4 linked regions of the Homo sapiens genome follow. The protein of the gene in region 2 purifies or fractionates together with the protein of the main gene of each other region. This does not show direct contact. Each region holds a gene or a part of one and is shown on either strand. Other genes may lie near its edges. The genes, in order: YAF2, E2F6, CBX3 and L3MBTL2.

What was found.
Region 1: the proteins of E2F6 (region 2) and YAF2 purify together in Homo sapiens (affinity purification with mass spectrometry; 5 studies listed by BioGRID and IntAct, with this or other methods). This does not show direct contact.
Region 3: the proteins of E2F6 (region 2) and CBX3 purify together in Homo sapiens (affinity purification with mass spectrometry; 4 studies listed by BioGRID and IntAct, with this or other methods). This does not show direct contact.
Region 4: the proteins of E2F6 (region 2) and L3MBTL2 purify together in Homo sapiens (affinity purification with mass spectrometry; 7 studies listed by BioGRID and IntAct, with this or other methods). This does not show direct contact.

What each region holds. Positions count from the first base shown.
Region 1 is NC_000012.12:42,235,245-42,242,409, forward strand, and holds the start of YAF2 (YY1-associated factor 2), read right to left. Parts: upstream 3,005-7,165; 5' UTR 2,937-3,004; coding exon 2,911-2,936; intron 2,492-2,910; exon of another isoform or gene 2,481-2,491; coding exon 2,355-2,480; intron 2,327-2,354; exon of another isoform or gene 2,189-2,326; coding exon of another isoform or gene 2,172-2,188; intron 754-2,171; coding exon of another isoform or gene 552-753; exon of another isoform or gene 1-551. UniProt on the Homo sapiens protein: Binds to MYC and inhibits MYC-mediated transactivation. Also binds to MYCN and enhances MYCN-dependent transcriptional activation. Increases calpain 2-mediated proteolysis of YY1 in vitro.
Region 2 is NC_000002.12:11,463,156-11,470,980, reverse strand, and holds the start of E2F6 (transcription factor E2F6), read left to right. Parts: upstream 1-4,819; 5' UTR 4,820-5,101; coding exon 5,102-5,209; intron 5,210-7,825. UniProt on the Homo sapiens protein: Inhibitor of E2F-dependent transcription. Binds DNA cooperatively with DP proteins through the E2 recognition site, 5'-TTTC[CG]CGC-3'. Has a preference for the 5'-TTTCCCGC-3' E2F recognition site.
Region 3 is NC_000007.14:26,196,988-26,204,744, reverse strand, and holds the start of CBX3 (chromobox protein homolog 3), read right to left. Parts: upstream 3,001-7,757; 5' UTR 2,919-3,000; exon of another isoform or gene 2,136-2,918; intron 1,775-2,135; 5' UTR 1,747-1,774; coding exon 1,723-1,746; intron 1-1,722. Other genes in the region: HNRNPA2B1 (heterogeneous nuclear ribonucleoproteins A2/B1), read left to right, coding at 4,168-4,173, 6,879-6,914, 7,013-7,123, 7,284-7,430, 7,728-7,757.
Region 4 is NC_000022.11:41,222,312-41,229,336, reverse strand, and holds part of L3MBTL2 (lethal(3)malignant brain tumor-like protein 2), read right to left. Parts: intron 5,318-7,025; coding exon 5,086-5,317; intron 4,613-5,085; coding exon 4,536-4,612; intron 4,371-4,535; coding exon 4,266-4,370; intron 3,544-4,265; coding exon 3,396-3,543; intron 2,676-3,395; coding exon 2,593-2,675; intron 2,249-2,592; coding exon 2,014-2,248; intron 1,819-2,013; coding exon of another isoform or gene 1,763-1,818; intron 1,534-1,762; coding exon 1,468-1,533; intron 1-1,467. UniProt on the Homo sapiens protein: Putative Polycomb group (PcG) protein. PcG proteins maintain the transcriptionally repressive state of genes, probably via a modification of chromatin, rendering it heritably changed in its expressibility.

The sequences.
Region 1 (7,165 bases), on a different chromosome or scaffold from region 2:
CCAACCTTACTCTGGAAATTACCCTGTTCATTAATAAGTCAATTATGGAGAATTATTTCTTCCAACTACTGAAACTTTTGCTTCTCAACACCGTTCTGCAGTCCTTTAATCTTGTTTTTTTAACATTACCAGAGAGGAAAAATATTAATATTCTGTGATGCAATCAATATCTTCTCTAGTAACAATACCCTGTTCCACACTGTTCTATACAAACACAGATTCTACCCTGAATTTCAGAAACCACTAGGAAAATAACAGATAACAGAGAAATTAGAGCTCTTAGGTTTAACTTAGAGCCAAAATCAAAAGAGAAGAGAATTCAGAGAGAGGAAGGAAGAAGCTGAGAGGGTCGTGGTGTAGAACACTTACTTTCAGGAACACAGTGTCCCTTAGATTTCTGGTGAGTTGCCCAGAGCCTCTTCAGTTTCAATCCAAATGACAATGCTTCTCTGAGTCCTCCTCAAGTAATGTTTCCACCACTAAAAATTGGATCTACAAGAGCTTAGATGTACTGGTAAAAAAAAAAAATGTCAGGGGCCCCCATGTGGGCCTCAAGCCTCTTTTAAACTAGGCCCACTTCTCTGTCCTGGGCCAACTCCCCTGTGTACTATATTCCTTCTTCTTCCAGGTGCCAGGTATTCAGCCTGTTTCTTCTCTTCTGAGCTGCCACCACCTACTCTATTTCTCAGGGTTCCTCTAACCCCAAGACTGGCTGTGGAGTAGGACACCAGCTTCCCCCCTTCCTTGCTGTCCCTGCAAATAAACATATAGGCTCTTCTAGTTTCAGTATTTTTCTAATGGCTACAAGAAAATAGAGAGGGAACAACAAAAAGCAATAATATATAGTACCAGAGATCAAGATTATAATTGTTTCCACTTTAATGTTCCTGCCTCCAAAAAACGAATTTTCTAAAAATTGCTTATTGAGCATTTTAAAAAGCACAAAGTACTAACACAGATACACAAATATACTCTAAACCAACTCCAACCTTACACAGCCAAGAAGATACTCTGCTTTTCAAAATACTTAAATCACAAATCACGGGTCCAAAAATAGTAACCACAATCATTTTAGCAAATACTTTTTTTCTTTTTGGAATGTTCTGTTGTAATCCCTTAAATTTAGCATACGTTTGAAAGTTTGCTTTTTGAATATGAAAAATGTACGAAATATTTTATCAATTGTGGGAATATACAAAAAGCATATGATGATTTACAAAAAACAAGCATGTCAAAACCAGCGAGCTTCACTGAGAAATTTTTCAGATAAGTTACTGTCAACCATTCCTGTCTCTAAATTTTAAACTTAATAAAATTCTGTAAAGTGTTTTTTAAAAAATCAAGATCTCATTTTTTAGAAATCTAACGTCTACTGAATATTTGTATATGTCAATATTACATGTGCCTTCTTTTTTAAAGCAACAGTAAGATTAGTATGCTTATTGTTATAGTTTAGTTTCTAATGGACTTTGTAATATCAAAATACATATCTTCTCTAAATATTAAGTAATAAATCACAGGATTATATTTAATTCAAAGGGTACCTTCGTATAAGAATCAAGGAGCTCGATAACTAAGTGCTGACAGATTAAGAATGCCACTGACTGAATTTCCTGGATGATTTTCTTTATTCACTTAATTCAAAGTCATTTTTTAAAAGACAGAGTTATTATACTGCAAGCTTACAATAAATAAAGTCTGAAAATAGGCAGAGATCTTTTCATCTCATTTGTCTAAGAGACTGCCATTTAATCAAACTAAAGATATAAAGGTACTTTCAGTAAAAATCTGTTCCTGTGACTGGGCTCATCTCCAACTACTTATTTATAAAATATTAGAGTACTGGAATAAAAACACTAAATAAAACCTTGATCTGACCCTTCCAGAAGTACATGTAGAAAAATAAGTTTTAATATATTGTGTATTCTGCAATCAGATACTTTTCTTTCTTTAGGAACGAAATTAAATTACATCCTTTGCTCCTAAAGAGATTTTATGGGTTTTCCTTGATCCCCACACACTAACACAACAATGCAGCCAACATTTTTATACCCAGAATGGGGAGAGGGGCATTACACCCAGCGATACGAATTAAATCGCAGTAGCTAATGCCTCCCTTAAATAATTTATTCTCTCTTGGCAGCAAAAAACGTTACAGCCTCTTCAATTACCCCTCACCGCAAACCATCGCCTGGGTTGCGATCAATGTGACCCAGTTCCTATCGCCACAGCCACCTCCGTCTGCCTCCTCCCGCCGGGTCCGCCAGTGTCATGGGAGGGGGCGGCAGCCGCAAGGGCGTCCTCTGGTCGCCACCCCGCCGGCCGGCGGCGCGAGGGGCAGGCCCGGGACTCACCGGGTGGAGGTGCCCTTCCGCACATCGCACATCATGCACTTGAAGGCCTCGGCGCTGTTCCGGAAGGTGCAGACGCTACAGTCCCAGTAACCCTCATCCGAGGACGGCTTCGGCTGCCGCTTCGGCCTGCAGGACACAACCCGGACACGACGCGGCGCGGGGTCACCAGCAGGCCGCGCCCGGTGCCCGGGCCCCGCGGCCGCCCCCGCCCCGCCCCCCGCCCCAATTCTGCGACCCCCGCCCCGCGGGCCCTCGGCGCGCCGCGCTCCGGCTGAGGGGGAAGGGAGTCAGGAAGAGGCAGGGCGCGAGCGCGGCCGCAGTCGCCGCCGCCACAGCCGCTCTGACACCCGGGCGGCCGCTCCGGTCGCCGCCGCCATCGCGGCTCCATTGTGGGGCGGCCGGCGCCGGCCCCCTCAAGCGGCAGCACTCGCACACCAGCGGCGCTGCCCCCGTGCTCGCCCCGGTGCCCGGGCGGCTAGCGAGGCGGCCACCCGAAGCCCTGCACGAGGGCCCTGCCGCCCGCACAGTCCGGGCCCCGGGGCCCGGGCGCTGTTACCTGGTGGGGCTCTTCTTGTCTCCCATGGCTTGGCTATCACCGCACGCCGAGAGTCGCCGCCGCGACCGCTCTGTTTGTCAATAAGGAGGATAATAAGCCGGGCGGAAGCGGGCGGGGGAGGAGGGAGGGAGGGGGCGGGGAAGGCCGCACCGCCGCGCTCGGGAGCCGCCGCCGGATCCCACGCAGCCTCCAGCTGTCGGGGAAACTCCTGCCTGGGCGCACGTGACCCTCGCCGGCCAACCAGCAGCCGCGCCGGAGACTTCAAACGCGGCCAGCGCGGCCCAGCACCCGCGGCGAGTTAGCCGGCGGGCGGTGCGGGGGTGGCCGCGGTGGCCGCGGCTGCCTCGGGCGCCGGCGCCGCCTCTCCGCGCTGTTCCCCCGTTGCCCCCTTGGTACCCCCGGCTGCCGGGGACTGCCTCGCGCTCCAGAGCCCCTCTGAGGAGGAAAACGTCTGTCCCACCGACTGGCAGGGGATGCTCCGTCATCCCGTGCGAAGCCTGGTCCAAGGTAGGGCCGGCCGGCGTTCGGAGGCCTGTCCAGGTCTGGACAGAAGTGCCAGCCCGGGATCTCCAGGTAGAACGACTTTCCTGGCCTCCGCTGTCCTTAGCTACCCAGCCCCCGCCTGCAGTATACCGGGGGGAAGGCGGGAACCAACACGCAGCGCCATTGCTACATGCCTTAAAGCACTGTCTGGTTTATGCACACAGATGCTCTAACAAGTAGGGATTGTCAACCCTAACTTAGAGGAATTGAAATCAAGACTCAAGAGAGATTAGGTGACTTCCTCTAGGCTATATAATTAGAAAATGACAAAGCCAAGAGTCTAACTCTGTTTTAATTCCAAACGCGCCCTTTTGGCCTCTCAGGCCTCTGCAGTAGCTGCTTTTGAAAGAAACCCCTATATACTCATAAGTCCTTTTTAAATATAAGGAGTTTGCATGTCCCCTCAACGCTGTCTGCTAACAAAAGAACACCTTCCCAGGTCTCTACGTCAACATACTAAAGGTCCTCATACTCCAGACTCCAGCAACAGCCATCTAACTGGTCTCCGAAGCTCCACTTCTACCTCCCCAATGTATTCAGTAATCCACAACCAGATTAATAATAAAATGCTGTTAATACTATGCCACCACTCTGATAAAGAACCACTAACGACTTGCCCACACTCCTTAGCCTGGCATTCAAAGGCTTCACACATTTTCCCTACCTCTGCCTCCCTCTCCCATAAGGAAAGCTGCCTCCTGACAAAGAGTGCAGATGAAATTCATTCCCTTACCAGAACCCTTCCTTCATGCACATGGGTTACTTCTGCATAAAGTATATCCCTCTTTAACTGTGCTGTTTCTGTCCATCTTTCTAGGTTTACATCAAGTCCGAATTCATGTAAAATAATTTTATAGCTAAACTACATAGGAAATAATACAGTCAGAAGCCCAGGATTCTCAGCCTGCTTCTCCTGTTTCTTAGCTGATAGACCTTGGAAGTATTGCTTAATTTCTGTAATTCTCAACGTTTTCATATTCTGAATTGCATCTATATGAGATTGTTGTGCGATTAATAATAACATTTTTTGGCCGGTTGCGGTCGCTCACGCATGTAATCCCAGCACTTTGGGAGGCCGAGGCGGGCGGATCACCTGAGGTCAGGAGTTCACAAGACCAGCCTGGCCAACGTGGCGAAACCCCATCTCTATTAAAAAATACAAAAATTAGCCAGCTGTGGTGGCGGGCGCCTGTAATCTCAGCTACTCGGGAGGCTGAGGTAGGAGAATCGCTGGAATCCGAGAGTGAGAGGTTGCTGTGAGCCGAGATCGTGCCACTGCACTCGAGCTTGGGCGACAGAGCGAGACTCCGCCTCTAAGTAAATAAATAAATAACATTTTTTTGAGCACTATGTGCCAGGCACTTTGTAAATCCCTGCGCATAGATGCATATTTTAAAGGACTCAAAGTACTATGCACATGGCCTCATCGACTGCAGATGCTCTTCGATTTAGAAAGGGGATACTTCCCGATAAATCCACCTTAAATAGAAAATATTGTAAATTGAAAATGCATTTGGTACACCGATAAATCCATCGTAAAGTAGAAAAATCGTAAGTCGAGCCATTGTAAATCCGTAGTCTAGCCCTTCTTTTTAAAGACAAGGCAATTAGGGCCCAGGTTAAATGGTTTTTCTTTGATGAGCAGGCCAGGGTTAGAGCTCAGGTATCCTATTGGTCTTTCACCGCATCTTCTTTCTGATTAACCAAATCACTCCATTTACATAGCAGTCTCTAAACTCGTTGTACCATCTGTACTTTTTGCAAATGTAGCTTCTCATGATTCAGACCCAAATTCGGAAACCAGGAACCATGAGGAGTATGATTGAGGCACGTATACAAGAGAACCAGATTTAAGGCCTAGTCTTTAACCTCTCAGTAATGCAGTGGGTAAACTCAGCTAAGTTTTTTTCATATGTAAAATAAAGGAGTTAAAACTATTATCACAACTAAGGTCCCTTGCAAGTCTAAGGCATTGTGATGTTTTTAAATGCCTCAACTGGATGGATCCTCAAATAGACTGACAAGAACTGCTCTACTTGCAAAAGTGATGGCAACAATGTATTTTTAAATAAAAAGGAAACTAAATCAAGCACTCTAAAAATCCCCCATGCTGCAAATCACCATTTCACTAGATTGTAACCTCCCTCACTAAAAAGTAAGCCGCACCTCTGAATCATGAACAAAAAGCACAATAACTTTTGTTGCCTTTATTGCTGCATCTCCAGCCCCTAGAACAGTGTGACACATAGTGGGCACTCAATAAATATTCTGAGAATAAATACATCCACTTATAGTCAGGTTAGCGCGCGCCTGTATTCCCAGCTACTTGGGAGGCTGAGGCAGGAAGATAACTTGGGCCCCGGAGTTCCAGACCAGCCTGAGCAACAAAGCCAAGACCCTGTTTCTAAACTAAATAATCAATACATTCACTTGTGTTACAATTGTTGAATGAGATTTTTTTCTTTCATATTGGGATTTACAAACTGTTAGGCATATTGCATGCAGTGGATGGTCAATAAATGCCAGAATTAACATTTATCCTTCAAAATGAACTTTACAACTCCACACATCCTTGTCGATGAACCAGGAACCTAGTTTTTGTGGAGCACAGAATCATATGCCCTTGCACTATACCAACTGCCTCCCATTTATGGGTGTTTCTCTTAAAAAAAAATCTCTGCCCCTACTAGGCTTACGTGGAGACAGTAGTACAGGAGGTACTCCTCCCATTTCACCACAAAAAGTCACACCTTTCCTAAAGTGTTTACTAGCTGTAAGAGTGGCTGTTGTGGAGAAAACAGATCTTTTTATTACTAAAGTGGCCCAGGTTCTTACCCAATCAGGTGTCTTTTCAATACAGTAACAGAGTTCAGTACTTTAGAAATGTTAATTCATTACGGTCACTTGTAAAGTGACAAACACTAACGATCGTTTTAACAATTTAACAAGTGTTGAAGTTTTCTGATGATTTACTTTTTTTGTTGTTTGTTTGTTTTTTTGTGTGTTTGTTTGTTTTTTTGTTTTTGTGTGTGTGTGTGAGAGAGTCTCACTCTAGTGCCTGGGCTGTAGTACAGTGGTGTGATCATAGGTCACTAAAGCCTTGAACTCCTGGGCTCCAGCGATTCTCCTGCCTCAGCCTCCTGAAGTGTTGGGATTCCAGGCATGAGCCACTGTGCCTGGCCTTACCTTAATGTTTAAAAGGTAAATGAGGGCAGACCAGTGGCTCATGCCTGTAATCCCAATACTTTGGGAGGCCGAGGTGGGCAGATATCTTGAGCTCAGGAGTTCAACAATAGCCTGGGCCATATGGGGAAACCCTGTCTCTACAAAAAATACAAAAATTAGCCGGGTGTGGTGGCATGCACCTGTAGTCCCAGCTACTTGGGAGGCTGAGGTGGGAGGATCACTTGAATCCAGGAAGCAGAGGTTGCAGTGAGCCAAGATCACACCACTGCACTCTATCCTGGGTGACAGAATGAGGCTCTGTCTCACAAAAAAAAAAAAAAAAAAAAAAAAAAAGTAAAGCAATCTTTACTTTCCCCAGTTACTGAGGAAGCTGAGAGCTGAGGCAGGAAGGATCACTTGAACCCAGGAGCTGTGGGCTGTAGTGTGCTATACTATTCGAGTGTCTGCACTAAGTTCGCCATCAATATGGTGACTTCCCAAGAGTGAGGGGCCACCAGGTTGCCTAAGGAGGGGTGAACTGGCCCAA
Region 2 (7,825 bases):
CCACTGGTGTCTTAGTCTGTTCAGGCTACTATAACAGAACACTGTGAACTGAGTGGGCTTATAAACAACAGAAACTCACAGTTCTGGAGGCTGGGAAGTCTAAAATCAAGGCACTGGCAGATTCAGTGTCCAGTGAAGGTCCACTTTGCTTCCTGGTTCATAGATAATGTGATGGTTAATATTGAGCATCAACTTAATTGGATGCAATTAATTTAAATAGCCACAAAGTATGCAAAGTATTGTTCCTGGTGTGTGTCTGTGAGGGTGCTGCCAAAGGAGATTAACATTTGAGTCAGTGGACTGGGAAAGGCAGACCCACTCTCAATCTGGGTGGGCACCAGCTAACCAGCTGCCAGTGTGGCCAGAATAAAATGCAGGCAGGAGAACATGGAAAGACTAGACTGGCTGAGTGTTCTGGCCTCCATCTTTCTCCCATGCTGGATGCTTCCTGTCCTTGAACATCAGACTCCAAGTTCTCCAGCTTTGGGACTCTTGGATCTTCAACCACAGACTGAAGGCTGTACTGTTGGCTTCCCTACTTTTGAGGTTTTGGGACTTGGACTGGCTTCCTTGCTCCTTAGCTTGCAAACGGCCTATTGTGGGACTTCACCTTGTGATTGTGTGAGTCAACACTCTTTAGTAAACTTCCCCTCATATATAAATCTATCCTATTAGTTCTGTCCCTCTAGAAAACCCTGACTAATACAGATGGTCATCATAAACCAAAAAGTATCTGAGACGGGTCTCAATCAATTTAGAGGTTTATTTTGCCAAGGTTAAGGACAATGCCTAAGAGACAGGTCTATACCTTTCTCTGAAGATGATTTTGAGGGCTTCAATATTTAAAGGGGAAAGGGCAGATATTGGGGAAGGGGGAAGAAATTTTTAAAAGGTGTTGATAGATAAGAGCTAAGTGGTTGCATTCTTTTGAGACTTTGATCAGCCGTTCACACAGAAGAGGCGGGTAGAGGAATAGTCACTTATGCATTCACCTAGCTCAGTGAATCTGCACTTTTACATAAGACAAAATAAACATGGCAGAGGAGGCCATCAGCTATGCATTTGTCTCAGGTGAGCAGAGGGATGACTGAGTTCTGTCCTTTGTCTATGTCCTGTCCATACCTATGAAGATAAGCTGTCAATCTACATTGTCCGGGTGAAATTCAACAGAACTATTTTAGGGTAAAGATCTTGGGGCCCACAGGGAATTTCCTGTGGGGAAAATGTGGAGGAAGCATGTAGCTTTTTAACGTTGTAGCTATCTTATTTAGGAACAGAATGGGAGGCAGGTTTGCATGATGCGGTTCTCAGCTTGGCTCTTCCCTTTGGCTTAGGCACTAATCCCACTCCTGGGCAATCTTTCCTCACGACCTAATCACCTCCCAAAGGCCCCATGTCCGAATATGATCACATTGGAGATTAGGTTTCAACATGTGAATTTTGAGGGAACACAAACCTTCTGACCATAGCAACTGGACTCAATGATATCTACAATTTTAGTTTCTTTGCCTGGGCTATCCAATATGGTAGCAACTACTTATGTGGCTATTTAAATTACAAATTATATTAAATTAAATTAAATTGAAATTCACTTCCTCAGACACACCAGCCTTATTTCAGGTGCCAGTGGCCACATGGGGCAGTGGCCACCATATGGAACAATGTGGAACATTTCCATCATCACAGAAAGCCCTAGTGGATATGGTCATTTCCTCACGGACCTCTGGAGAGGACATTTTCAAGTAGAAGGGAAGTAAAATATCTTCTGACAGATGAGGGCTTTCAGGATTGCTCAAGCACACCTGTGCAGTTGGCCTAATATTTCAGCCCTAACTTTAAAAATGATCCCTGGGAAGTATAGTCTTCAGCCCTAACTTGAAAGTCCCAAAGCCCATGCCCCATTCTGCCCTAGCACCATTTTGCCCCAGGAAGCATACACAAAAACAGGGCTGGAACTGGGAAATACCAGAATTTCTGTGCTCAGAACTGTGACTGTATATCAATGTAAGGCCATGGTGGACAAAGCCAAGGATGTAGTGGCCAAAGTCCTGGTATTTGAGTACCCAACCTGGAACAAACTTCTCTGAGCCTCTGTACCCTCATATATATATATATATATATATATTTTTTTTTTTTTTTTTTTTTTGAGACAGGGTCTTGCTGTGTCACCCAGGCTGGAGTGCAGTGGCATGATCTTAGCTCACTGCAACCTCTACCTCCCAAGTTCAAGCGATTCTCTTGCCTCAGCCTCCTTAGTAGCTGGGATTACAGTCGCCTGCCACCACGCCCGGCTAATTTTTGTATTTATAGAAGAGACAGGGTTGCGCCATGATGGTCAGGCTGGTCTCAAACTCCTGACCTCAATCAAGTGAGCCTCCTGCCTCAGCCTCCCAAAGTGCTGAGATTATAGGTGTGAGCCACCATGCCCGGCCTTCTATAAAGTATTCTTGAAATAGCTGCCTCACAGGCAGATGTGGAAAAGCACCTGTAGTTTACAACTAATTCAGTTATTATTTTTTCTTCCTCTGCTGTGCTGCTATTGTGTGTTAGACACACTCTAATTTAGTACTTATGCTTTCTGCTTATGTATCTCCCCCAGGCTAGTAGCCCCTGGAACACAAGGTAAGGCCCCATCAGATTCAGTTCTTCCCTCAACACCTACCCTACTGCTTGGCCCATGAGAGATGCTTCAAAAAAAAAAATGTGCAAAAGATTATGTCTTGGGGAAAAGCCAGGTCACAGGCACAATAAGTGTGAGGATTGTGCCATTTCCCCGACTCTCCCCAGCTCTGTGCTCATGCTCTTTCTTTAGCCTGGACCACTTGCTACTCCGTCCTGATCCACACCCCACCTTTACTTGCCCAACCCCAACTCTGGTTGTAGAGAATCTAGTCGTCCTTGAAGAATCTTCCTAAAGATCTGAATGCCAAATTAATTAATCAGTTGTGGAGTCAAAGCCTGCCTCTACCACTGCCTACTAGGACCTTGAGTAAATTTTTGTAATCCTGCTGATCTTAATTTTGCTGATCTGCAAATTGGGCAGAAAAATACCTATCTTTCAGTTTTGATATGAGATTTACATAAGCAAATGCATGTGGAATGCCAAACACATAGCAGATGCTGAATAAATGCCTTCAAATGGCCATTTCTAACGGCTCTGGGAAATTCTCCATTCTGCAACAATATGCAGTCTTCTCGAGACCTCCGCTACGTTCTCTTTTTTTCTCATCGTTTATTTAGCAAACATTAATAGAGCATGTTTTATTTGCCAGACACTTTGCTAGATGATAGAGATACAAAGATTAGAAGCCAGGCATGGGTGTCTCACGCCTATAACTCCAGCACCTTGGGAGGCTGAGGCAGGAGGATTGCTTAAGGTAAGGAGTTCAAAAAATAAAATAAAATAAAACATAAAAAAAAATTAGCCAGGCATGGTGGCATGCACCTGTACTCTCAGCTACTTGGGAGTCTTAGCTGGGAGATCACTTGAGGCCAGGAGTTTGACGCTACAGTGAATTATGACCGTGACACTGCCCTCCAGCCTGGGTGACAGAAAAAAAAAAAAAAAGATTAGAGAAGGCCTCTGACCTCACAGTCTAGTGGGGAACCAGCTTCTTCGGGGATTTTTCCCTGCCTCACCTCGCCCACCTCAGGCTGTGTAGAAACCCCCAGTCTAACCAGTTGTTTCCCTCCAACTCTGTACATACCACGGTGTGTTGCCTTTTTATTTCAAACATGTGCTGGCCTCTGTTCTAATCACAGCAACCTGTATCCATTAATCCATTTAATCCTCACAACAACCTTATCAGGTAAGTATTGTCATTATTTGCATTTTCCAAATAAGGAAACTGAGGCACAGACAGATTAAGTAACTGGCTTAATAAGGTCTTCTAGTTTATACGTAGAGGCAGCCAGGACTTGAAAACACACCTTCTGGCTCCAGCTAAATTAACATGCTCTGTTTACTTATCTGTCCCCACTGAAATTGGAGGTTGAACCCGTGGCATATTCAAACGAATAAGTATCGCCTGTGCCCACCCCAATATCTGACACTATAGGTCAACGATAACTCATTCGTCAAACAGGAAGGAGGAAGGAAGGAAGGAAGGAAGGAAGGAAGGAAGGCAGGCAGGCAGGCAGGCGGGCAGGCAGAGGTAAAACGATTCCACAATGGTGTGGTTGCTCACATTTACTAAGCATCAACACTGACCTGCCTGTAAGATGCGCTAACAGAGCTCACGAATAAATGAAGGCTGGGTGTGGTAGCTCACGCCTATAATCCCAGCACTTGAGAGGCCAAGGTGGGAGGACGGCTTGAGCCCCAGAGTTCAGGACCAGCCGGGGCAATATACTGAGACCCTGTCTCTACTAAAATTAAAATTAAAAATTAGCCAGGCACAGTGGCGCGCGCATGTAGTCCCAGCTACTTGGGAGGCTGAGGTGGAGGATCGCTTGAGCCCGGGAATTCAAGGCTGCAGTGAGCCCTGACCACGCCACTGCACTCCAGCCTGGGCGACCAAAAAAAAAATTAAAATAAAAAAAAGGAATAAATGAACATCTCTGCGGCTCAGAACTTTCAGTTATCACCTCAGAACTTTCAGTTATCACCGTCGAGAATTCCAGGCGACCGCTGGGTTTTCCCGGTTGCCTCTTTTCTCTCACCCCTGTTCCCTTCCTCTGGAATTCGGCTCCACCTCTTCCTTTTCCTTTGCCAGCCTCTCCGTGGATTCCGCGGTCCGGGTTTCCCGGGCGGCAGCCGCCGGGAGAGGATCGGTGCGTGGGAGCGCTCCGGCAGCGGCGGGCATGCGCAGAGGGGGGCGGTGTACTGCGCATGCGGGAAGATGGCGGGCCGGGCGACTTGAGATCCGCGGGTCTCCCTCCTCTTTTTCCGTCTGCGTCGGGAGCTCCCGGGCACGTGAGGCCGTGCCGCGTTTACTGGCGGGCGGGACGGCCTAGCCGGGCGGCGCCTCGGAGGAAGCCGCGGACCCCTTAGGTGCTGGGCCCTTGGAAATCGGCGCGTGGGGGGCGGTGCTCGAGCTGAGCGCGAGAGGGCGGGAGAGCTCGTGGGGTGCGAGGGGAGCAGGACGCCCGGCCGGGCAGCATGAGTCAGCAGCGGCCGGCGAGGAAGTTACCCAGTCTCCTCCTGGACCCGACGGAGGAGACGGTTCGCCGTCGGTGCCGAGACCCCATCAACGTGGAGGGCCTGCTGGTAAGCTCCGGGACGGGACGGGGACGGGCGGTGGTCTCCCAAATCCGGCCCCCTCCTCCCCGCGCCGCCGCCAACCCCGCTGGCCGTCGTCTGGGTCGTCTGCTCCCCCTGGGCCAGGCGCTGCCCATCACGTGCTGCGAACTGCGCTCTCCCGCCTTCTGCTTTCAGCATCTGCTCACAGACGTGGTATCAGTCTTCTAGGCTTTTACATCGGAACTTCAGAGCACTGTTGGAGAAAATTGCTCAACTTTGCATTAGAGAGTCCATGTTTATCTCCTTCTATGGACTCTAGCTGTATCTCTGCAACCTATCATTTGTTTTTCTGCCTCCTCTCCCATCCTTCTGCTCTACTGCAGCCGTTTAAAACCTTGTCCACGCTTTATATTTCCCACGCCACAGCTCCCATTCATCAAATTATCTCCCCACCTGTTTGACAGAGAAAATGGTTAGGAAATTTGGCTCCCTTTCCTGCAAAGGCTGATTTCTTCTCTTGTTCAGGACCAGATGCTGTATTCCCCGCGGTTATCAGGGCCCTCAACAAATGCATTTTCTTTTTCTTTTCTTTCTTTTTTTTCTTTTTTTTTTTTTTTTTTGAGATTGAGTTTTACTTTTGTTCCCCAGGCTGGAGTGCAATGGCGCAATCTCAGCTCACTGCAACCCCCACCTCCCAGGTTCAAGAGATTCTCCTGCTTCAGCCTCCCATGTAGCTGGGATCACAGGCATGCGCCACCACACCCAGCTAATTTTGTATTTTTAGTAGAGACGGGATTTCGCCGTGTTGGCCAGGCTGGTCTCGAACTCCTGACGACCTCAGGTGATCCACCGAGCCCGACCTCTCCCCGTATTTTCAATTTCTCTGCTGCTTTCTTTCTATAACTAGTAGTAATTAAACATTTTCCCAAGTCATTATGCCTGGTTCCCCTACCAAATAGTTTGTGATTATTGCCTCATTTAATTTCTCATTTCTCACAGCAGTGTTTTATAATACTAAAAGATTATTATTCTTGTTTCACGGTTGCCAAAACAGACTTGGAGATGCATGTAACGCCGGCTTGCCTGTGGCTGGATAATAAGTGTAGAAACTTGGGTTGAAGCTCCAAATGTCTAACTCCAGATGATAAATTCTTGACTACTAAAACCGCATTCTAAATCCATCCCCATCTTAAAAGATCTCTCCCTTGATTCCATATCCCCTCCCATCTACTGTCTCTCTTCCTCTTCACAGCTAAACTTTTTTTTTTTTTTTTTTTTTTTGGTGACGAAGTCTTGCTCTGTCACCCAGGCTGGAGTGCAGTGGCCTGATCTCGGTTCACTGCAAGCTCCGCCTCCCGAGTTCACGCCATTTTCCTGCCTCAGCCTCCTGAGTAGCTGGGACTACAGGCACCCGCCACCACGCACGGCTAATTTTTTTTTGTATTTTTAGTAGAGATGGGGTTTCACCGTGTAAGCCAGGATGGTCTCAATCTCCTGACCTCGTGATCCACCCGCCTCAGCCTCCCAAAGTGCTTTCACAGCTAAACTTCTTGAAAAGGTTATTTACACTCACTGTTTCCACTTGATGGCCTCTTATTACCAGCCAACCCACTGCTGGGGACCCCTATCCTAAGCACACTTGTAAGACCATTCTAACCAAGGTCACCGACAAGCTCGTCAATTCCAGCAGCTGTTGTAGTTTTGACTACAACACTCGTGTTAGAAACCCTCCCTTGAGCTTCCTTGACGTTTGATGCTCCATCTGCTTCTCTGGCTTCTCCTTGTCCTCATCCTCTTCCCATTCCTTCATGTTGATTTGTTTTTCTGTTTTTGTTTTTGTCCCCCCCCCCGGTGCAGGATCTCACTCTGTCACCCTGGCTGGAGTGCAGTGGCACATCATGGCTCACTGCAGCCTTACCTCCCAGGCTCAAGTGATCCTTCTGCCTCCAACTCCCAAGTAGCTGAGACCACAGGCACATGCCACCACACCTGGCTAATTATTTTTATTTTTAGAGATGGGAGTCTTCCTATGGGGCCCAGGCTGGTCTTGAACTCCTGGGCTCAAGCAGTCCTCTCACCTCAGCTCCCCAAAGTGCTGGGATTACAGGCGTGAGCCTCTGCAGCTGGCCACATGTTGGTATTATTCAGGGTTCTCTTCTACCGTCTCTACACATTCTTCTTAGGGGAGTTCATTCACTCCTCCCATGACTTCTGTTACCATCTACATTTGATCATTGAACGACTCAGGGATTGGGGCACCAAATCCCATGAAATTCAAAATCTGAATATAACTTTGATTCCCCCAAAACTTTACTGTTTGCTGGAAGCCTTACTGATACCGTAAACAGTTAATTGACACATATTTTGTATTTATATGTATTAGTTACTGTTTTCTTATAGTAAAGTAGCTAAAGAAAAGAAAATGTTATTAAGAAAATCATAAATAAGAGAAAATCCTACTCCTTCGGGGGAATTAGGTCATCGTAAAGGTCTTCATCCTTGTCTTCACACTAAGTGGGCTGATGAACAAGAGTAAGAGGAGGAGCTGGTTTTGCTCTCTAAGGGGTGGCAGCGGGTAAAGAAAATTGGTCTCTAAGTGGACCCACACAATTCAAACCTGTGTTGTTTGAGGGTCAGCTGTAT
Region 3 (7,757 bases), on a different chromosome or scaffold from region 2:
TCATTAAAGCCATCCCACAAGTAAAGCAGCAAGCAGAAAAAAGTTAAGAACACCTCAAGGCTACAGAAGGACATTTCAAGCTATGCAGGCATATGAAGTGTGCAGACAGATATGTAAGAAAGGCCTCAAGACTGCAAAAGGGCATTTCAAGCTATGCAAGCATATAGGTAACACATACACACACACAAAATAAAAATCCCCTGAAATACAAAAACATGCAGCAAACACCTGACGTTTTTGGATACCATTTCTAAGTCAGGTGTTATGATTCTCATTAGTCAAGATACTTGAGTACTGGGCCCAAACAGCTTTCTGCCACTGTACAGTACAAGAAGGTAGGAATAATGGTGGGAGGAGCAAAGACAAACTGTAATAGACAGAAGTGTATCAGATACCTATACTACATGAAAAACAAAACAGCTACTGCCACAAAGGGAGAAGGCTAACAAAATAAAGTCAACAATAAATACAGAAAATGAAAAGGATACACACTAAGGTTTACAAAAAAAAAAAGGCAGACAAAATGCCATACAGTATTCATTCACTACTATGGCATTCATAAGCTAGTTTCAAATGCTCACTATTTTCTTTTATAGTATATATTTGCCTTAACCCAGCACTTTTTTCCAAAAGTGGATGAGTCAAAATAAATTTCCCATTATTTAAGTGAAATTAACAGCACACATATCTCACAACACTAATGAATTTTTAAAATGGAAAGTTAAGAACTTTTAAAGTGGCCAACCTGTGATCCTTCACAAAATAAACTAAATACAATAACAGACCCCAAAGGCTATCAATTGCGTGCAAAAACAACTTCTGTTTTCCAGGGTAAACAGAATCTAATGCAGAATCTAATGCAGGGTAAACAGACTTAATGCAGAATCTAATGATGGCACAAATTAAAAATCACTAACGTGCCCTTTTTAGTGTGAAACCCAGAGAGAGCACATACAAGCCAAAAACAAATGCTTTATTTTACCTAGGAGACATTAACATTCACCTTTACGTGTTTAAGATTAATGCAATGTTAAATATTGTGAAAACTGTAACTTTGAATTTCATGATTTTTATGTGAATATTCCAGGGTTTAAAAAAACTTGTAACATGACATGGCTGAATAAGATAAAAAAAAAATCTAGCCTTTTCTCCCTTCTGGCTCATATTTGCGATTTCGATCATTTTGTTTAAAAAACAAAACACTGCAATGAATTAAACTTAATATTCTTCTATGTTTTAGAGTAAGTTAAAACAAGATAAAGTGACCAAAGTAATTTGAAAGATTCAATGACTTTTGCTCCAACCTAGGTGCACAAGGTACCTTGTTCTTTAAATTGGGCTTTAATGAAAATACTTCTCCAGAATTCTGGGGATTTAAGAAAAATTATGCCAACCAACAAGGGCTTTACCATTTTATGTAACATTTTTCAACGCTGCAAAAATGTGTGTATTTCTATTTGAAGATAAAAATCCTCAGCAAAATCCACATTGCACTGTCCTTCAAAGATTAGCCTTCTTTGAACTAGTTAAGACACTATTAAGCCAAGCCAGTATCTCCCTGTAATGAATTCGTTTTTCTCTTAATTTTCCCCTGTAATTTACACTGGGAGAGCTGGGAAATATGTGGATGTAAATTTCTCAGCCACAGAGATGCAAAGTTATACTGTGGGGAAAAAAAACTTGAGTTAAATCCTTACATATTTTAGGTTTTCATTAACTTACCAATGTAGTTTTGTTGGAGGCCATTTTTTATTGCAGACTTGAAGAGCTATTACTAGAAAAATGCATGACAGTTAAGGTAAGTTTGCATGACACAAAAAAGGTAACTAAATACAAATTCTGTTTGGATTCCAACCCCCAAGTAGAGAGCGCACATTTCAAACGTGAATACAAATCCAGAGTAGATCTGCGCTCCTACCTACATTGCTTATGATGTACTTAAGTACGTGTCCTAACCATGTGAGTCTAGAAAGACTTTACTGGGGATCCTGGTACCTAAAACAGCTTCACATGGCTTAAAATAGGGGACCAATGTCTTTTCCAATCTAAGTCCCATTTATAATAAAGTCCATGTTCCATTTTTAAAGGACAATCCTTTCGGTTTAAAACCAGGCACGATTACCCAAACAACTCACAACGGTAAAGCACTGTGAATCTTCTCTGTTCTGCAATCCCAACTTGGTTTCTGCTCAGAAACCCTCCCTCTTTCCAATCGGTAATTAAATAACAAAAGGAAAAAACTTAAGATGCTTCAACCCCGTTTCGTGACACTTTGAAAAAAGAATCACCTCTTGCAAACACCCGCTCCCGACCCCCGCCGCTGAAGCCCGGCGTCCAGAGGCCTAAGCGCGGGTGCCCGCCCCCACCCGGGAGCGCGGGCCTCGTGGTCAGCGCATCCGCGGGGAGAAACAAAGGCCGCGGCACGGGGGCTCAAGGGCACTGCGCCACACCGCACGCGCCTACCCCCGCGGCGGCCACGTTAACTGGGCGGTCGCCGCAGCCTCGGGACAGCCGGCCGCGCGCCGCCAGGCCTCGCGGACGCGGGACCACGCGCCGCCCTCCGGGAGGCCCAAGTCTCGACCCAGCCCCGCGTGGCGGCTGGGGGAGGGGGCGCCTCCGCCGGAACGCGGGTGGGGGAGGGGAGGGGGAAATGCGCTTTGTCTCGAAATGGGGCAACCGTCGCCACAGCTCCCTACCCCCTCGAGGGCAGAGCAGTCCCCCCACTAACTACCGGCGCTGGCCGCGCGCCAGGCCAGCCGCGAGGCCACCGCCCGACCCTCCACTCCTTCCCGCAGCTCCCGGCGCGGGGTCCGGCGAGAAGGGGAGGGGAGGGGAGCGGAGAACCGGGCCCCCGGGACGCGTGTGGCATCTGAAGCACCACCAGCGAGCGAGAGCTAGAGAGAAGGAAAGCCACCGACTTCACCGCCTCCGAGCTGCTCCGGGTCGCGGGTCTGCAGCGTCTCCGGCCCTCCGCGCCTACAGCTCAAGCCACATCCGAAGGGGGAGGGAGCCGGGAGCTGCGCGCGGGGCCGCCGGGGGGAGGGGTGGCACCGCCCACGCCGGGCGGCCACGAAGGGCGGGGCAGCGGGCGCGCGCCCGGCGGGGGGAGGGGCCGCGCGCCGCGCCCGCTGGGAATTGGGGCCCTAGGGGGAGGGCGGAGGCGCCGACGACCGCGGCACTTACCGTTCGCGGCGTGGCGCCCGGTGGTCCCCAAGGGGAGGGAAGGGGGAGGCGGGGCGAGGACAGTGACCGGAGTCTCCTCAGCGGTGGCTTTTCTGCTTGGCAGCCTCAGCGGCTGGCGCCAAAACCGGACTCCGCCCACTTCCTCGCCCCTGCGGTGCGAGGGTGTGGAATCCTCCAGACGCTGGGGGAGGGGGAGTTGGGAGCTTAAAAACTAGTACCCCTTTGGGACCACTTTCAGCAGCGAACTCTCCTGTACACCAGGGGTCAGTTCCACAGACGCGGGCCAGGGGTGGGTCATTGCGGCGTGAACAATAATTTGACTAGAAGTTGATTCGGGTGTTTCCGGAAGGGGCCGAGTCAATCCGCCGAGTTGGGGCACGGAAAACAAAAAGGGAAGGCTACTAAGATTTTTCTGGCGGGGGTTATCATTGGCGTAACTGCAGGGACCACCTCCCGGGTTGAGGGGGCTGGATCTCCAGGCTGCGGATTAAGCCCCTCCCGTCGGCGTTAATTTCAAACTGCGCGACCGTTTCTCACCTGCCTTGCGCCAAGGCAGGGGGCGGGACCCTATTCCAAGAGGTAGTAACTAGCAGGACTCTAGCCTTCCGCAATTCATTGAGCGCATTTACGGAAGTAACGTCGGGTACTGTCTCTGGCCGCAAGGGTGGGAGGAGTACGCATTTGGCGTAAGGTGGGGCGTAGAGCCTTCCCGCCATTGGCGGCGGATAGGGCGTTTACGCGACGGCCTGACGTAGCGGAAGACGCGTTAGTGGGGGGGAAGGTTCTAGAAAAGCGGCGGCAGCGGCTCTAGCGGCAGTAGCAGCAGCGCCGGGTCCCGTGCGGAGGTGCTCCTCGCAGAGTTGTTTCTCGAGCAGCGGCAGTTCTCACTACAGCGCCAGGACGAGTCCGGTTCGTGTTCGTCCGCGGAGATCTCTCTCATCTCGCTCGGCTGCGGGAAATCGGGCTGAAGCGACTGAGTCCGCGATGGAGGTAACGGGTTTGAAATCAATGAGTTATTGAAAAGGGCATGGCGAGGCCGTTGGCGCCTCAGTGGAAGTCGGCCAGCCGCCTCCGTGGGAGAGAGGCAGGAAATCGGACCAATTCAGTAGCAGTGGGGCTTAAGGTTTATGAACGGGGTCTTGAGCGGAGGCCTGAGCGTACAAACAGCTTCCCCACCCTCAGCCTCCCGGCGCCATTTCCCTTCACTGGGGGTGGGGGATGGGGAGCTTTCACATGGCGGACGCTGCCCCGCTGGGGTGAAAGTGGGGCGCGGAGGCGGGAATTCTTATTCCCTTTCTAAAGCACGCTGCTTCGGGGGCCACGGCGTCTCCTCGGCGAGCGTTTCGGCGGGCAGCAGGTCCTCGTGAGCGAGGCTGCGGAGCTTCCCCTCCCCCTCTCTCCCGGGAACCGGATTTGGCGGCCGCCATTTTCATGGCTCGCCTTCCTCTCAGCGTTTTCCTTATAACTCTTTTATTTTCTTAGTGTGCTTTCTCTATCAAGAAGTAGAAGTGGTTAACTATTTTTTTTTCTTCTCGGGCTGTTTTCATATCGTTTCGAGGTGGATTTGGAGTGTTTTGTGAGCTTGGATCTTTAGAGTCCTGCGCACCTCATTAAAGGCGCTCAGCCTTCCCCTCGATGAAATGGCGCCATTGCGTTCGGAAGCCACACCGAAGAGCGGGGAGGGGGGGTGCTCCGGGTTTGCGGGCCCGGTTTCAGAGAAGATATCACCACCCAGGGCGTCGGGCCGGGTTCAATGCGAGCCGTAGGACAAAGAAACCATTTTATGTTTTTCCTGTCTTTTTTTTCCTTTGAGTAACGGTTTTATCTGGGTCTGCAGTCAGTAAAACGACAGATGAACCGCGGCAAAATAAACATAAATTGGAAGCCATCGGCCACGAGGGGCAGGGACGAAGGTGGTTTTCTGGGCGGGGGAGGGATATTCGCGTCAGAATCCTTTACTGTTCTTAAGGATTCCGTTTAAGTTGTAGAGCTGACTCATTTTAAGTAATGTTGTTACTGAGAAGTTTAACCCTTACGGGACAGATCCATGGACCTTTATAGATGATTACGAGGAAAGTGAAATAACGATTTTGTCCTTAGTTATACTTCGATTAAAACATGGCTTCAGAGGCTCCTTCCTGTAATGCGTATGGATTGATGTGCAAAACTGTTTTGGGCCTGGGCCGCTCTGTATTTGAACTTTGTTACTTTTCTCATTTTGTTTGCAATCTTGGTTGAACATTACATTGATAAGCATAAGGTCTCAAGCGAAGGGGGTCTACCTGGTTATTTTCTTTGACCCTAAGCACGTTTATAAAATAACATTGTTTAAAATCGATAGTGGACATCGGGTAAGTTTGGATAAATTGTGAGGTAAGTAATGAGTTTTTGCTTTTTGTTAGTGATTTGTAAAACTTGTTATAAATGTACATTATCCGTAATTTCAGTTTAGAGATAACCTATGTGCTGACGACAATTAAGAATAAAAACTAGCTGAAAAAATGAAAATAACTATCGTGACAAGTAACCATTTCAAAAGACTGCTTTGTGTCTCATAGGAGCTAGTTTGATCATTTCAGTTAATTTTTTCTTTAATTTTTACGAGTCATGAAAACTACAGGAAAAAAATCTGAACTGGGTTTTACCACTACTTTTTAGGAGTTGGGAGCATGCGAATGGAGGGAGAGCTCCGTAGAACTGGGATGAGAGCAGCAATTAATGCTGCTTGCTAGGAACAAAAAATAATTGATTGAAAATTACGTGTGACTTTTTAGTTTGCATTATGCGTTTGTAGCAGTTGGTCCTGGATATCACTTTCTCTCGTTTGAGGTTTTTTAACCTAGTTAACTTTTAAGACAGGTTTCCTTAACATTCATAAGTGCCCAGAATACAGCTGTGTAGTACAGCATATAAAGATTTCAGCTCTGAGGTTTTTCCTATTGACTTGGAAAATTGTTTTGTGCCTGTCGCTTGCCACATGGCCAATCAAGTAAGCTTCAGCTTTCAGTAATTGTTATCTTAGAGATTATGCCACGTGAATGTATTTTATTGTACATATGGTTAAGCTGAGTAATTCATATTCTGTATTGTCATATATCAAATATAGACATGTCCACCAAAAATTAAACTTTTTAAGCTTCGAGTGCTGCTGGTCATAAAAATTAATTTGTCCTGGTTATAAGAGTAATTTTTAAGGTTATTTCTAATGCATATCTTTAAATATTTTCGTAACTGAGAGTCATATGGAGAAACTTAGTGTTTGTTGTAAAAAGTTGTGTTTTTTTGGCTGAGATACTTAGAATCACCACCAGAGGGGGCAGTTAAGGGAAAATAAATGATACTTTTCAGATATTGAATAGTGAAATAAAAACTTTGGGTCATAAGTAATGAACCAAGAGTTATTTTCTGATGTTTAAAAATAGAAATTTGCGTTTTTAGGTTGTAGGGTTGAAATTTTTGGTAAAGATTCTTTAATAATCCTTTGATAATCACGGTCTACATTTGTTTATTTTTCCTTAGAAAGTTTTTTTTTTAATTAATAATTTAAGATAATTTAATGTTGAGTAAATTTATATCAAGCATTAATGACTTTGAAACTTGTGTAGATCAGCTGAGGCAATTTTTTGGTGTAACACAACTAATATGCAGTTTAACATATGGTTTAAATTTGATGTAAGTTTTTTTTTTCCCCCCAGAAAACTTTAGAAACTGTTCCTTTGGAGAGGAAAAAGGTACTCTGCCAGCAGGTCACCTCATATTTAAGAATTTAATTTCCTGCATACAAAGAGGAAAATGTAAATAAAAATTGAAATGGTATTTTCCTTTGCAGAGAGAAAAGGAACAGTTCCGTAAGCTCTTTATTGGTGGCTTAAGCTTTGAAACCACAGAAGAAAGTTTGAGGAACTACTACGAACAATGGGGAAAGCTTACAGACTGTGTGGTATGTAAATTACTGAATTGTTACTGGATATTAGTCTTTTAGCTGTATGTTAAGTGAATCATGGAGGAAATAACTATCAGCATAGTAAAAAATTCTATTATGACTTCACTTATAAGCTATAATGAGATTAAATGCTAAAGTTTACCCTTTGGTTTGAAAGGTAATGAGGGATCCTGCAAGCAAAAGATCAAGAGGATTTGGTTTTGTAACTTTTTCATCCATGGCTGAGGTTGATGCTGCCATGGCTGCAAGACCTCATTCAATTGATGGGAGAGTAGTTGAGCCAAAACGTGCTGTAGCAAGAGAGGTAAGCAAACAATGACTGTCTTGTGCATTAACATGAAGAACGCTGCCCTGCTGAAAATCAGAAACTATTTCTGAATTTAGTTTTAACTCAAGATTTTTTCTCTTATTAAAGGTGTGTTGGGTTTCTGGACCATTTTCTTAAGCTAGCTTATTTTTCAAAAGCTAGGTCCCTAAAAGCTATTTTATATCTGGTAGTTTTAAGGTGGATACAAGCGAAGTATGGTACTACGGTTGGGTGCTTTGAATTATGCTTGTGTTTTTTTCTGTTTGGATGACTTTTACCCCACCACTATTTTAGGAATCTGGAAAACCAGGGGCTCATGTAACT
Region 4 (7,025 bases), on a different chromosome or scaffold from region 2:
ACCACCTCCCTCAAACCAAGCCCCAGGCAGTCGTGGTTGTAACTGCTTTTTAAAATCTTTTTTTAAATAAAAAGATTTTTTGAAGAGGGTCTCACTCTGTCACCCAGGTTTGAGTACAGTGGGGTGATCACAGTTCACTGCAGCCTTGACCTCCCAGGCTCAGGTGATCCTCCTACCTTAGCCTCCTGAGTAGCTGGGACTACAGGCCTGTGCCACCATACCCAGCTAATTAAAAATTTTTTTTAAATTAGGGGTCTCGCTATGTTGCCCAGGCTGGTCTCAAACTCTTGGGCTCAAGAGATCCTCCCACCTCAGCCTCTCAAAGTGCTGGGATCACAGGTGTGAACCATCACACTCAGCCCCCGTTTTTGATTGTTGATTTCTTCCCACAACATGCACCATTCCCGGTCCTACCGTTTGAATGGTACAGAGCCTCTGCCTGCTGGATAAATGCCACACCCTCACTCAATTTTTTTTTTTTTTTTGTGCGATGGAGTTTCCCTCTTCCGCCCAGGCTGGAGTGAAGTGGAGCGATCTGGGCTCACTGCCACCTCCGGCCCCCAGGTTCAAGTGATTCTCCTGCCTCAGCCTCCCAAGTAGCTGGGATTACAGGCGCCTGCCACCACACCTGGCTAATTTTTGTATTTTTAGTAGAGACGGGGTTTCGCCATGTTGGTCAGGCTGGTCTTGGAACTTCTGACCTCATGATCCGCCCACCTCGGCCTCCCAAAGTGATGGGATTACAGGTGTGAGCCACCGCGCCTGGCCGCCTCACTCAATCTTAACCCTGCCCAAGGGACCTTGTTTCTGTTTCAGAACATCCTCTTCCCCACATGGTACCACACTGTGGAGCCCACCTCGCTGTCATAGGCCTGCGGCTCTGAAGGATGGCTTTGCCCGCTCCCGCTCTGCCCCTCAAGTGGAACCCAAGCTGGGCTCAGAATCTGTAGAGTGAGGCCCCACCAAGGGAAACGACACCCACGGCCTGAGAGCCAGGTGGAGTCCTGCCACTCAGCTGCCTGCCTTTGCTCCCACCCTCTCCCACCCTCAAAGAGGTCTCGAGGTAAGAATGACAGCCTTGGAGAGACAGCTTCTATTTCTTCCTGTGGCTTTTCCTTTAGAACCTAGCAGCTGCGGCTTGCCCAGGCCAGGCTGTTTTTTTCTGAACATGGGGCATCAGGGATGGGATCCCCCAACCTCAATCTCTTACCTCTTTTCCTCAGCACCCTGACCATGGCCAGAGACTGAACACTCCCTATTTATGGTCTGGGTCCCCAGAGACAGGGTGAAAGGCCCGTAGGCCAAAGGGCAAGGGGAAAGAGACAGGACAGGAACACGAAGAGAGCTACGTCAGTAGGACAGCACCTGGGAACCAGTGCCTGGGGGCTGACCCCCGCCTGCTCCCAGGGACGCAGGCCCACTGCTCCCAGGCCCACACCAGCCTGGCTGCACCGGTGCAGCACTTACTTTTCTTCCCAAACTGTTTCTTTTTCTTCTTTGTGGCCTCTTTGGCCTTCAGCGGTGTGGCCGGTTCTGTTGTTGAAAGACAAGGGTGAAAGAGATGAGAAGAGGGTCCCTGGGAGGACACAGGGCACAGGCGCATCCCGAGACCCCATCCACCCTCCCACACGAGACACCCCAAGACAGGAAGCCAAACCTGGGCAATGAGGAGAGGGCGGGGCTGGAGGAGGGGCCGGAGAACAGCTGTCCCTTCTTCCCACCCTTGTTACCAGGGCTGCTCAGAGGGACCTGGGTAGTTTACCTGGGTGCACAAGGGCACGAACATATGACAGAGTGGGCAAGATGAAGGAAGGAGCTCTGCAGGCCAGAGGGAAAGGGAGACAGAGAAGTCAGGAGCAGGGGCTGGGTGACGGGGCTCACTCTCTACTTAAAGTGGTCCATGAGACATCTCCACCTCATGCCAAAGAACGGAGATGGGCACAGGGGCGGGGGAAGAAGGAAAAAAGAAGAGGAAAGAAAGTCAGAGCCTCTTAGGGCCACGAGAGCCCACACCTGCGGCCACAGGAGGCTGGAGCTGGTAGCCGGTGAGCTCACACCAGCCGACGGGGTAGATGTCTGGGGACTCGCAGTCCACCCACTGGTCGTACTCGCTGTCCCAGCCGTCAAAGTGGATGCTGAGGAGCCGATGCACCACTCGTTTCACCGTGGCCACACAGATGAGCCGGGGCTCCATCAGGTCCACGGCCTCCAGCTTCATGCCCACCTTGAAGCCATGGTTTGGGCAATCCTGGGGCAGAAAAAGGAGGCAGTGGCCAAGCCAGTCAGCTCCCTACCCCAGCAGGCTTGCCCCGGCCCGGAGGCACTTGAAGAACTGGCAGGGAGGGGCGGGGACTGGAATGGCTGCTGGGGCAGCTTCCTCTAGACAATAACCCACTGCACCTCTCCCAGTACCGCCCTCCATGGAAGAGGGACTGGAGTGCCCAGGCCATAGCTGGGGACTTCCCCCTGAAAGTGGCTGATGTCAGCAGTAGAGATTCGAGAGAAAGAGTAGGAACTGCCACCACTGACAGCAGCAGGCAGGGCCTGTCCTGAGGCCACCGCAGGCCCCTTGCTCCACTTCAGTCTCCTCACCATGTTAAAGAGTCTCGATGGAGCGGCTTTCGACTTGGTCTTCTCCAAGTAGTTCTCCCAGTTGAAAGTCTGTGCCTCATAACCTGGAGGAGCAGAAAGCTCAGATGCAGAGGGAGAGGGGGAAGCAGGAAGTGGGCAGGAGGAAAGGACACATGGCTGAAGAAGCTCTGCAGCTTGGTCAGGACCCAGCATGGAGTCTCCCCAGCAGCCTTCTTCTCATCCCCTCAGGGTAGTACCTGCTCTAGCACCACAGTCCTGTTGTATAGGTTGTTCACTGACCAATGGGATAAGTGGGAGCTCTGTTCATCAACCATACACTGGCCATGGGGTAGGGTCAGCCCAGCAGTTAAGGGCTGGTGGTGGGCTCTGTCACCTTTCCCATACACCCTGAAATGCTACACTTCTGGGGCCTGACTTGACCAGGAATCTGGGCTTGTGGCCACACCCTGCCCCTTCTGTTTTGTTTTGAAGACAGAGTCTTGCTCTGTCGCCCAGGCTGGAGTGCAATGGCATGATCTCGGCTCACTGTAACCTCCACCTCCTGGGTTCAAGCAATTCTCCTGCCTCAGACTCCCGAGTGGCTGGGATTATAGGCACCTGTCACCATGCCTGGCTAATTTTTGTATTTTTAGTAGAGACGAGGTTTTGTCATGTTGGCCAGGCTGGTCTCAAACTCCTGACCTCAGGTCATCCACCTGCCTCGGCCTCCCAAAGTGCTAGGATTACAGGCGGGAGCCACCGCGCCTGGACACCCTGCCCCTTCTGATGGCAAGGACAGCAGGTGGTGGCCTCTCTAGTCTTACCTTTTGGCGGTGTGAGCTCAATGTCATTCTTCTGACAGAAGGTGGCCGGGAAGATGGCGTGGGAAGAGGCATGGTAGCAGAACCAGTCCAAGCCATCTGTGGAGGGCCCCCCGTCCACACAGATCATCAGGTATCCATCCAGGAGAACCTGGGGGGTGGGGGGAGCAGGCAGACAGATCATATCATGAACTGCACCCCATCCTGGGTTGGTACCGCACCCCAATAGGGACACGAGGCAAATGGATCCAAACGGATCTAGGGCATGGCCCTCCTGGAGGACACCTGAGCCTCTCTGGGGCACACAGTACTTCTGTGATGCATACGCGTGGGATTCTTTCTCTTCCCCACTAGACAGCAAACACCACGCCAGCAGGGGCCGCGTCCATCCTGTTGGACCGTGTTCTTGGGTGAGCACACGCGCCCGGCATGGAGCGGATCCGCGGCGAGGACGAGTCAGCAGCCTCCTCCAGGAGGGCCAAGGAGGGGTGGGGGTGCTGCTCAGGAGGAGGCGATGAGGTTTGGAGCAAGGTGACCCCAGCTGTGGCTCTTGCCTAGGCCAGCGCTCAAAGGAGATGGCACACAGCAAGAAGGCCCCAGTGAGGTGACAGGGAGGGGCCTACTCTGACACAGGACCAGGCTCAGGTGTTGAATAAGCACTCGTCCAGGGAGCCTTGGACCCTGACACGAAAGCAGATTCTGAGCAAGGGGCAGGCCAGGCCCCACTCACAAAAGTCAGGGACTCTGGGTGCAGCCAGTGATGAGAGGCTGGGACACAGACCCCCTGACGGTGGCGAGTGGGGTTAGAGCTCTGGGCCACATGGGTCCCCCCGCTCAGAAATCTGGAGGCTGGAGAGCCGGCCCCTGGCTCACCTTACAGACAGTTGCCACGCAGATGTTGCCCAGATTCAGGGGGTCAATGGCCTCCAGCTTCATCCCTTCCTCAAACCAACCGCCTTCTGTGTAGACTGCTCGTACCTTAAAGGAATGGGACAGCTGGGGACTCCCTGGGCAGGCCAGGAGGAAGGGTGAGGGAAGCAGGCCTCAGGAGGGAAAGGGATGGTCCCAGGGGAAGAGCCAGGTCCCTCAGGCCCGGAATGGACCCATGGCTGAGGGGAAAAGCGCCCAAGAGCTGAACCTCACCTTCTTGAAGAGGTAAGGAACGGCATCACAGTAGATCTTCCGGAAGGTGGGGTGATGGGCCATGTCACTTCGCCTCTCTTTGGAGGAGATGGATAGGGAATGAGGGAGAGAAGGGAGTTGGAGGCGGCTCCTGGGCCATCTCCACACGCCTCCCCTGGGAATGTGGGGCTGCTCTGCACGTGTTCTCAGCTGTATCTCTGTATCTCAGGACCCCCCACCCCAGAGTAGCAGACAGAAAGGTTGAGTCCAGAAAACATCAAGAGCTCTCTGTAGGGACTCTTCAGCCCTCGAAACCCAGACTGCTCCCGCATTGACAGGGGAGAGGATCGGGGCTGGTAGCATCTGGGTTCAAATCTTGATTTTACCACTCACAAGTTGAGTGGAGTGACTTTTGTCAAGTTACTCAAGCTCTCTGGAGCTCAGTATCATCACTGCAGGGGGGCCATGCCAACCTCCACCTGCTGACCTGCTGTGACGAGTAGGAAGGTGCTCCCACTCCGTCCCTGGGGAAGCACAGCATGCAGTCCCTCTGGCCTGGGGCTCTGCTAACCTGACATCTTGATGCCGTGGCCCACACGTCGTGACCAACCCACTGGGTGGATCAGGGGGCTCCACATGTGGCACCAGAAGTCGTCGTCACTGTCACCATCCTCGTAGAGGAGCCGTAGGCGACCCCCGATTACTGTGTCCACCACAGCCATGCGAGTGCGTGACACCTGGGACTTGTCCACCACTTCCAGCCGCATGCCCTGCCTAAAGGGGTACTTCATGCTCTCCACCATCTGAAACGACGTCAGAACACAGGCCTGCTATGGCTCAGGGCTCTTCCCACCCACCCTCCTGCTCTGGTGAGTGGAGGACAGGGAAGGTGTGGTGTTATCCCCCACACTCAGTCAGTCGGGAGGTGGCAGATGAGACTGCCTGCGCTGCCAGGCTCACCTTGGCCCTGACTCCCTAGGAGGACACAGAGGGAGGCAACAGCTCTCCCTAGGAGGACACAGAGGGAAGGCACACGGCTTGCAGTGGGCATGCCACTTCTTGCCACCAAAACGCCAATGAGTTGATGCAAATCACAAAACGCACTTTAGACTAAGGAAAAGTGACCCAGAGGTCACGCCTGCCCAGAATTACACAGACTCATTTGTGCCAGAGCTGGGCCTGGAAGCTGGTGTGCAGCCTGTGCTCCTCATGGGCTCTGCACTCTGATCCCCAGGCATCCTGCCCTCCCCGCCCCCTCCCAGCCCTCTGCCTGTGGCACATACAAGACTCATGTCCAGAGAACTGAGTCTTCCTGTGTCCCTTTCTGACCCTGATGGGCTGCAGCTCTGCAGTGCTTTCACAGTGCCTTGGTAGCAACTGACCTAATGAGGGATGGTGACCAAGATGCCCTCGAGCTGCTCTACAGAGAGCCATGGTGCTGGGGTACAGAGGAGGAGGTTCTTTTTGTTCACTGTGACTTCAGTGCTGTCCTGCCTGGGGCAGGGAACAGGTAGGGTGTAGGGCTTTTCCAGCCCCAGGGCACTGCTGGGTCAGGAAGAACCAGCCTAGACTAGACTAAGCAGTGCTATTTCCAAACACACCAGGAAGGAAAGCGTCTCAGAGGTCACAAAGCAGCCAACAGGCAAAGCTGACACAGGGGTCCTAAACCAGACAGACCCTCTGGCCCAGCTCAAGGGCTTGGGATACGTCCTGACACCAATTGCCTGTCCCACATCCGGTATCCCAGCAGCTCACTCAGGAGAGTGAGAGAAAACACAGGGTAAGGCCTGGCTCGGGGCCCCTCTGGGCTGCCTTCCCTGCCATGTTCTCTTCATCTACAGCCAACACAGTGCAGCCCACAATCCAACGCCATTTTTGTTAGTTTTTGTTTTTTTTTTTGAAATGGAGTCTCCTCGCTCTGTGGCCCAGACTGAAGTGCAGTGGCACGATCTCAGCTCACTGCAACTTCGGCCTCCCGGTTTCAAGCGATTCTCTCACCTCAGCCTCCTGAGTTAGCTGGGATTACAGGCGCATGCCACCACACCCAGCTAATTTTTGTATTTCTAGTAAAGACAGGGTTTCATCATGTTGGCCAGGCTAGTCTGGAACTCCTGCCCTCAGGTGATCTTCTGACCTCGGCCTCCCAAAGTGCTGGGATTACAGGAGTAAGCCACTGTGCCGTGCCTAGCTAATGTTTTTTTTTTTTTTCAAGAGACGAAGTCTCACAGTGTTGCCCAAGCTGGTTTCAGACTCCTGGCCTCAAGTGATCCTCTTGCCTTGGCCTCCCAAAGTGCTGAGACACTGAGACAGGTATGAGTCACTTTTACCATGTATATATGTGACTTTTTAATTTTTACTAAATCATTTCTTAAAATTAAATGCCACAAAGATGATTCTGTGCCACACAGGAGTCCTACACCAGACAGAATCAGACAGCCCAGAGGCGCCCCAGACTGGGCTTTACCCTGTGCTGTGCCAGGCACATCCCTGGCTCAGAACCGAGGCTATATT